2 separate regions of the Homo sapiens genome follow, and region 2 is reported to be linked to region 1. Evidence: microRNA targets listed by miRTarBase, many of them from high-throughput screens and not tested one by one. Region 1 holds a microRNA gene; the other region holds the end of a gene's coding sequence.
What was found. The annotated mature microRNA hsa-miR-1249-3p reads ACGCCCUUCCCCCCCUUCUUCA and lies in region 1 at 2,789-2,810, shown strand. An mRNA with a match to its seed (bases 2 to 7 or 8) in the 3' UTR can be bound and repressed. Matches are read on the target gene's strand: a 7mer-m8 pairs with bases 2 to 8, a 7mer-A1 pairs with bases 2 to 7 and ends in A, and an 8mer does both.

Region 1 (4,370 bases):
TGGGGCCCCCCAGCCTGCTTGTGCATGGTAGCGGCCGCCAGGGGTACCTGCAGCCCCTCCGGGCTCCTTCTAGGCGCTCCCTGGTCCTCTTAACGTCATTCTTCATGGTCGGCCTCAGCCCATGCGGGCCACTTGCCTTCATCTGAAATGTGAGCGGGAACTTCCTCCTCAGTCTCTAGTTCCCTGGGAAGTGATGGCTGATGGTGTCGCTGTCACCTCCTCACTGTCACTTGCTTCCTGCGACTGGCCCTGGGAGTGCTCCGAGTCGCCCCCAACTAAGCAAGCAGATGTGGGCAGGCCCCTCTCCCCCAGCGGGCACCATCCGCAGCCAGCCTTGCTGCCAGCCTGGGGCCCTGTCCTCAGCCTGGTCCGTGGTTCATGGGGCGGTGGGAGGGGCACCAGGAGGGGCACCAGGCAGAGATGTGGGTCCATTCCAGCTGCCCCGCCTGCCAGCTCAGACGCTCCCTCCCGGGCAGCCCCCGCTCCTTGAGGGATGGTCGCCCTGGCTGTTCATGTCCTGGGGAGGGGCCCCATGGAGCCATCGCCACCTCCCTGACTCAGGCTGCCCCGCGCCGGCCCCCAGGTGAGCGTGGCCGCCCGCATGGCACAGAAGATGTCGTTTGGCTTCTACAAGTACAGCAACATGGAGTTTGTGCGCATGAAGGGCCCCCAGGGCAAGGGCCACGCCGAGATGGCGGTCAGCCGAGTGTCTACAGGTGACACATCCCCCTGTGGGACTGAAGAGGACTCCAGCCCAGCTTCGCCCATGCACGAGCGGGTAAGGGCTGCACAGCTGGGGGCGGGGGCTCCCATCCGTCAAGTTCACTTTCCACCGTCTCCCCCGTGCTCACGGCCCCCTGGGGACATAGGTGTTGTCATCCCCAACCACCAGTGCGCAGGCCGAGGTGCCGAGCGTGCGGAGGCCCGGACCACCCAGCCCTTCTCTTTGCCTAGCGGTTTGTAGGAGGCACTGCCGCAGGGGAGGCGTTCCTGCCTTGCAGACCTGGAGGGCTGTGCCTGGCCAAGGTCACACCGCAGGCTGGTGCTGGGCCAGAGCTCTTTCTGCCTCCCTGAGATGCCACAAAGCCAGGCTGAGTCCACAGAGCCAGTGGGCAGAAGAGACTGGCTGGGGACCCAGGCCCGGCCCTGGCGCCTGCCTGGGTGGACCTGCTGGGTGAGCGTGGGCACGTGGCCGGCCTTCCCCGGTGAGTCAGATGGGGATGATGGTGACTGAGGGTCAGCCAGCGCATGCAGAGGCCTAGGCCACCCAGCTCTTTGCCCCGCGGTTTGTAGGAGGTTCTGCTGCAGGAGAGGCGTTCCTGCCTCGCACAGCCGGAAACCAGACTTGCCAGCTTGCCCCAGGTCACAAGGTCTCTTGGGATAGCACTGGGCTTGGGGCCCTGCTCTGCCTAGGCCACTCTCCTTCCCCAGGGCGGGAGGCTGAGGTCAGCAGCAGCTTTGTTCCCAGAAGCCTTTGGTGGGGCACAGGCAGGAGAAGGTCTCCAGCCCACTGGCTGCTTTGCTCTACCTGGTTCTTCCAGAGGGACTGCCCAGAGCTGTAGTTCTTGGAAGAGTACAGGTGTGCTGGGCAGGGGGGTGCCCTTGGCACAGGTCCAGGGGCAGTCTTGCCCAGCCATTGTCCAGGAGAGACGCCACCCACAGCCAGAATCCTGCTCTGCTGCTCTCATAACCTTGGGTGTGTCTCTTTTCCTCTCCAAGCCTCAGTTTTCTCATCTAGAAACAGGGCACGAGGATACCTGCTCCTTCAGTATTTGGGAGGCTTTGAGGAATCCGGGGCTTGGCCCTCAGGAGGATTCCCAGGTGGCAGCTGCAGTAGTTGCTGTTGACCTACTTGGAAAGCAGAGGCGTGGGAATGTAAACGATGCATTACCGCAGGCATGCCTGAGATGAGGGAGTGTGCGTTTGTTATACTTTTAGTTCGAGAAAGATCTGAATCATGCATATCTCCGGGTGGTCAGATGTTGGTTTTCTTTCTCTTCTGTATATCTTTTTTTGGGGGGGAGGTATCTTCTGCAATGAATGTGTTTTGCAAGCCAAAGACAGCAAGTGCTATTTTTTGCAAAGATGGGTGAGAATTCCAGGCAGGGGCCTCTCTTGTCTTTGGAATGAGGTGGTTTATATTTCTGAGTTTGTTTCCGAGATAAAGGGCCTGGTTCTTCTCCCTGGTCCTAAATTATGCCCTGGGACTCTGACAAAATGTGTGTGTGAAAGTCCTTACGAAGATGTGGCCCGAGCTCTGGGCTGGACAAACCCGGGTGCCACCTCCAGCCACAGCCTGAGGGCTGAGTGACTACAGGTCACTAGACCTGCCTGAGCCTTGGTTTTCCCATCTGTCCAGCGGGAGTGGCTGTGAGGGGTGTGAAAGTCCCTGGTGCCTTAGCAGCTGGGCAGCCCTGGGATTCAGGAGGAGGGATGTGCTAGGGTCACACAGGGTCAGCAGCAGGGCTGGCCCCTGGGGACTGCCGCCTGTGCGCCTGCTATTACCTGTCTCCTTCTCTGGCGGGGTCGTCTGGAGCCAGTGCGTGACACATGCTGACTCTGTGTATTGTGGTTGCTGCTGTTTGTTTCTTTTATCTTTTAAAAACCTTCCCCGGCTTGTGGGAACACCGTCTGGAGCCCAGCAGCTGCCAGGACTTTGGTGGATGTCGGAGCCGTGACGAGGAGGCTGACGGGGCTCCCGAAGTCTCAGTCCCAGCTCATCCTGCTCCTCAGATTATTGTTGGCATGGGGAGGAGGGAGGAGATGGGCCAAGTTCCCTCTGGCTGGAACGCCCTTCCCCCCCTTCTTCACCTGGCGAACTCCTACTCGTCCTTCAAGACCCAGCTCCAGCGGCATCTCCTCCAGGAAGCCTTCCCTGATTTCCCAGGCTGTGGATCCCTTTTGCCTCTGTGCTTCATGTATCCTGTGCTTCTCTTTCTCTGTCTCCACAGCCAGCATGCTGTCTATGGTTGTCACTCTCTGAGTCTGTCACCCCAGCAGACTGTGAGCTCCTTGAGGGCAGGGACCTGCAATGTGCCTGTCTGTCCTTAGTGCTGTGCCTGCCTGGCCCTGAGTGGGTGTGAATGTTTGGTGAACAGAACCAAACGTGATTAGAAGTGGGGAGAAGACAGAGGCATAGAGCTACTTAGCACAGTATTTCCTGTGAAGGGTGCTGGGAATGAGAGGGATGGGGCCACGTCAGCCCTGAGAAGTAGGATGAGGAGCGTGGCCCTGGGGGACAGAAGACAGGGCTGCTGCCGTCCTGCTTGGTGACCACAGGCAAGCCAGGGTCTCGGTCCCTGCCTTAGTTTCCCCATGTGTCAGATGGGCTGACGCTAGCCCCTGTCTCACGGAGCTGGAGGCTCAGAGGGTCTGTGTGTGGGGCCAGTGCTCACTCAGCGTCAGCAGCTGTTGTTACTTTGTGCTTGAACACCCCCTACCCACTGTTTGAGGCCCAGAGGAGGGGGGTCTTTCTGCCATTTGCGGCAGCAGCCTGGCCCCTCCTCGGGTAGCACTGGTGGCCAGGTGTCCTGCTGGCCCCTGGGCTGGAACGCATCTTCCAGTCTCTAGGCCCCACCTAGCACGGGCCGGCTGGGCCTGGGTCCTCCTGGGCCAGCGGCCTCTTCCCTGGGAGCTGTGTCAGGTTGTTTGAGGGTGGGATAGGAGGGGCGTTGGGACCCCCGGGGAGGGGGCTGTTCTGCTACTCTGGTGACTTTGGCTGCTTGTTCCCAGGTGACCTCCTTCAGCACACCCCCCACCCCAGAACGGAACAACCGGCCTGCCTTCTTCTCCCCATCCCTCAAGAGGAAGGTGCCCCGGAACCGGATCGCTGAGATGAAGAAGTCGCACTCGGCCAACGACAGCGAGGAGTTCTTCCGGGAGGACGACGGTGGAGGTGACCCCCCACTCCGTGCCCTAGGGTCCCCGTGCCCTTCAGTCTCTTCTTGATCCAGACCAGTCATTCATTCATTTATTCATTCATTCATTTGTTCATTCAGCAGCACTTAGAGAGTGGGTGCCATGTGCCAGGCAGCCCTCCAGGAGCTGAGGGGTAGAGCTGGGGACAGGCAGAAATGGCTGCCTCTGGGGGTCCCGTCCTGGTGGGCTCAGGCGTCTCCTTGGCAGAGTGCTTGGAGCGCAGATGTGCAGCAGTTGGTCAGTTTCAGGGGATTTCCCACCTTTCTAAGGCTTTTCAGCCTGCTTAAGGAAGAAAGCGGATGGGTGATCTGATGGCTCCGCACACACGGGGTGTGGCGGGAGAGAGGAGGGCTTCCCTCCCTTGCGCTGCCTTGGGCCAGCTCGCCCTCAGGGTGAGGCCTGGCCCTCCTGGCTCTGTGCAGCCTCCCAGAACCACGTGCTCTTTGGTGACA
Region 2 (4,370 bases), not on the chromosome of region 1:
CCCATCCGCTGCAACACCACAGTCTGCCTGGGCAAAATCGGCTCCTACCTCAGTGCTAGCGTGAGTGTCCTGCACAACTGCTGGAGCCCGGTCCCTGTCGCAGGACCACAGCCTCCTCCAGGGCCAGGAGTCTTGTGTGTGGGGGCCTTCATTCTCCCAGAGACTTAGACCCTGCACGCTGTTGGCCCCATATCTGGGTTCCCAGAGGAGGAGTGAGTTGGCCGAAGTCACACAGTCAGGAGGGATCTGGGATCTGAATCCAGGCGTGCTTGGCCCCATGGCCTGTGTGCATCCCTTCAGCCAGGGTTTGTAAGTTCAGTTGCTTGCCGTGCCCAGACAGTTAACAGGAATGAACGGTCAGCTGGGCAGGGAGGAAGGGAGCCTGTGTCCGAGCCCTGGGGACAGCTGCTGTTGTGGTCCCATGCCCTGAGGCAGTGTGGAACCCAGTGATTTGGGAAGAGAAGCCCAGGTCCAGAGTTTTAGGTCAACTCTCCCCATTTAAGTGATTCATTCATATTTTTCAGATTCTGGGGACCTATGGGTGGTCCCATTCTGGGAAGTAAGGGCTGGTGGTTCTGGGTCCCAACATTGACCCTACACTCAGGAGCCCTCTTTCCTGCCCCATCGTAGACCAGACACAGGGTCCTTACCTCTGCCTTCAGCCGAGCCACTAGGGACCCGTTTGCACCGTCCCGGGTTGCGGGTGTCCTGGGCTTTGCTGCCACCCACAACCTCTACTCAATGAACGACTGTGCCCAGAAGATCCTGCCTGTGCTCTGCGGTCTCACTGTAGATCCTGAGAAATCCGTGCGAGACCAGGTGAGGCACAGCTGGGCCTGGGCCCTGGGCTGGGGCTGTAGGGGATGTCAGCCCCTAGCTGGCCTGGTAGGTTCTTGGGAACCCCAGAGACCCCAGCTCTGCCTCGTTACCCCACAGGCCTTCAAGGCCATTCGGAGCTTCCTGTCCAAATTGGAGTCTGTGTCGGAGGACCCGACCCAGCTGGAGGAAGTGGGTGAGTGGCTTACACTCGTGTTCCCTCTTTCCCTGCCATGTCCTTGACTGTGACCTGTTTGTGTCCCACCCCCACTGGAGTTTCTGAAAGGTCCTAGTGAGCAGACTTGACTCAGCTCCCCCTTCACAGATGGGAGAAATCAGGCCTGGAGAAAGGAGGGGTGGCTGCAGGGCACTGTCAGTTCCTGCTGTCCTGTCACCCATGGGTGCCTGACGTGCCCATACCCACCTCTCTCTCATGCCACTGCCCAGAGAAGGATGTCCATGCAGCCTCCAGCCCTGGCATGGGAGGAGCCGCAGCTAGCTGGGCAGGCTGGGCCGTGACCGGGGTCTCCTCACTCACCTCCAAGCTGATCCGTTCGCACCCAACCACTGCCCCAACAGAAACCAACATTCCCCAAAGACCCACGCCTGAAGGTGAGTGTCCTGGCCTAGCTGCATCAGTGGCTGAGAGGGCTGAGAGCTGCAGGCACCCAGGAACTCTTACTGTCTGACTCCCCCGGGGATGGTGAAGGGGATATAGGAGCTGGGTAGGCTCCAGTCACCCTGTGGGCTTCCTTGGTGCCCCTTCCCCCCAGTAGCCCCCTTCCCCTAGCAGCCTCTGCCCTGTCCCAAGACCCCCCTGAAAGCTCAGTGAGCCTCTGCTCCCCAGGAGTTCCTGCCCCAGCCCCCACCCCTGTTCCTGCCACCCCTACAACCTCAGGCCACTGGGAGACGCAGGAGGAGGACAAGGACACAGCAGAGGACAGCAGCACTGCTGACAGATGGGACGACGAAGACTGGGGCAGCCTGGAGGTGTGTGGGGCTGAGGGAGCCTCCCCAGGGGACCCCAGCTCAAATCCACAGGCTGCCATTCAGGGAGCTTCTGTGGGGCCTGGCTGGAGTTGGCCTGTCCTCATCAGCACAGCATCCCTGGCACGTAGGCCTCATGGAGTGGCCATTGTAGGCCAGAGCCAGCAGCAGGCCCCATTCAACCCCAGCGGCCCCAGGGAGCAGGCTAGGCAGATGGTGCCTGGGGCATTCCCTGAACTTCCTCACTCTTACCCACACCGTCCCCCTTTCCCCTCCTCCAGTGCCCACCCAGCCATGGGGGTCAGCAAGGAGAGGCCACTCCTGGGTCTAGAACCAGACCAGTTCTGCTTGGGGGATGGGCTCAGGTTGGGCTGAGGGAGGACTGGGGCTGTCCTCAGAATGGGGCAGAGCTGGGGGCCCAATTTCCCCATCTGGCTGACAGCAGCAGTTTCTGGCCCTCAAGGCTGTTGGAAGGGGCATCTAGATCTCATTCCCCAGCCTTAAAGAGGGGTGAGGGCAGGCCAGGGTCAGCGTCCATTTAATAGATGGGAAACAGGGCCTGAGGAGCAAATGAGGAGGAAGGCAAAAGACAGTGGTGGGGCCCGTGGCTGGGATGATGCTGGGGCGGGCTCACTTGCCCTTTAGCATGGGGTGGGAGTCAGTGGTCCCTTCCCACACTGCAGCAGGAGGCCGAGTCTGTGCTGGCCCAGCAGGACGACTGGAGCACCGGGGGCCAAGTGAGCCGTGCTAGTCAGGTGAGCTGGGTCTGGTGGGGAGGTGTGTGTATGGGGCTCTTTCCTCCTTGGGCCCAGGGCTACTTCCCCCTCCCGCTCTTCTACAGGTCAGCAACTCCGACCACAAATCCTCCAAATCCCCAGAGTCCGACTGGAGCAGCTGGGAAGCTGAGGGCTCCTGGGAACAGGGCTGGCAGGAGCCAAGCTCCCAGGAGCCACCTCCTGACGGTACACGGCTGGCCAGCGAGTATAACTGGGGTGGCCCAGAGTCCAGCGACAAGGGCGACCCCTTCGCTACCCTGTCTGCACGTCCCAGCACCCAGGTACCCAGCACAGGTCTGGCGAGAGGGTAGAGATGGTGGACCTCAGCCAGAAGTGGGCCCCACTGCAGCCCACACTTCTCTTTACAGCCGAGGCCAGACTCTTGGGGTGAGGACAACTGGGAGGGCCTCGAGACTGACAGTCGTAAGTGCTTCCCCTGGGTGGGCTGAAGACTAGGGCTCCCCGACTAGCCCGCCCCTACAGGCCCCCGGCAGGCACTGGCTGGAGAGCTGAGACCGGGGCTCCCCTTCCTGACGCCAGGACAGGTCAAGGCTGAGCTGGCCCGGAAGAAGCGCGAGGAGCGGCGGCGGGAGATGGAGGCCAAACGCGCCGAGAGGAAGGTGGCCAAGGGCCCCATGAAGCTGGGAGCCCGGAAGCTGGACTGAACCGTGGCGGTGGCCCTTCCCGGCTGCGGAGAGCCCGCCCCACAGATGTATTTATTGTACAAACCATGTGAGCCCGGCCGGCCCAGCCAGGCCATCTCACGTGTACATAATCAGAGCCACAATAAATTCTATTTCACACCCCTTGTGCCGGGCTCAGTCTAGCCCCTGGGAGGCGGCTGGGGTCTGGCGCCGCCCTGCGCAGCCCGCGCCCACGTCAGACGTGAACATCAATTTGCTTCGAAAGCCAAGGGTAAAGAGGCACGATCTGATTTATCAGTTTCTAGGAAACACCCTCTGGGAGGAAGGCAGGCAGCGCCCGCCGGAGACCTTACAACCGCCCGCTAACCGGGGAGGGGGGCCGGTAGGGGCGCCTCGGGTCTCAAGGCGCCGGGAGGGTCTGCGGGCCCTGAAGGTCCCTGGGTCCGAGCCACAAGTCGGGGCAGAAGTGAGGCCGAGCTCGCGGAAATCCCTCAGTGATCACCGAGGTCTGGGCCGAGGGCGGCGTCGGCGGCGTCAGCGGCGGCGCTGGGGAACGCAGGCCCCGTGCGGGCGGCTGCGCGCGAAGCCGGCTTTGCAGACGCAGCGGAAGGAGCCGCTGGTGTTCACGCAGCGCTCGCTCTTGCACAGCAGCCCGCGCTGGTTCAGCTCTCGGCACTCGTCGATATCTGAAGGTGAGGGCGACAGGTGCGGCTTCGCTGAGCCTCCAGGCGGCTCCTCACCACCGGCCCCGCCCCTGCCCCCACCCCCGAAGCCCGGCTCACCCACGCAGCGGGCGCGGGAGGCGTCGAGCTGGAAGCCGCCGGGACACTCGCACACGGCGCCGCCCGGCCGCGGCACGCAGCGGCCACTCACGCAGCGACACTCGTCTGAATCCTCCTCTGAACTGTCCTCATCTGCGTGGCCCGGAACAATATGGACTTCAACACTGAGCCCCGGCCAAAGGCTACCAACCCCGCCACCGCCCGACCCGGCAGCACTCACCTCTTGGGGGCTTCCCCAACAGCAGGGGGCTTGTGTCCCAGAAGGAATTGCTCTCGCTCTGCGATGTCGGGCAATGGGACCCTGGGAGGAGCAGAACTGGTCAGCGACGTCCGGGTCCCCGGGCCCTGGCCCCCATCCTCGCTCC

Region 2: miRTarBase lists LTBP3 as a target of hsa-miR-1249-3p. The part of its 3' UTR that is shown has no 7-base or 8-base seed match.

The regions. Positions count from the first base shown.
Region 1 is chr22:45,199,398-45,203,767 of GRCh38, reverse strand. MIR1249 (microRNA 1249) reads left to right here and starts at 2,749; the gene lies at 2,749-2,814. KIAA0930 reads left to right here. Exons shown (of 10, transcript NM_001009880.2): 7 at 584-778; 8 at 3,733-3,895. RefSeq lists a cis regulatory region at 1,369 and an enhancer at 1,297-1,441.
Region 2 is chr11:65,535,323-65,539,692 of GRCh38, forward strand. LTBP3 (latent transforming growth factor beta binding protein 3) reads right to left here. Exons shown (of 28, transcript NM_001130144.3): 26 at 4,226-4,306; 27 at 4,006-4,137; 28 at 3,237-3,909. The coding sequence ends at 3,758. SCYL1 (SCY1 like pseudokinase 1) reads left to right here. Exons shown (of 18, transcript NM_020680.4): 10 at 1-60; 11 at 631-819; 12 at 937-1,012; 13 at 1,264-1,428; 14 at 1,664-1,806; 15 at 2,487-2,558; 16 at 2,645-2,860; 17 at 2,948-3,002; 18 at 3,120-3,382. The coding sequence ends at 3,244. Among named protein-coding and RNA genes, the nearest start is that of SCYL1, 12 kb to the left of the region's middle. RefSeq lists enhancers at 2,682-3,186, 3,187-3,690.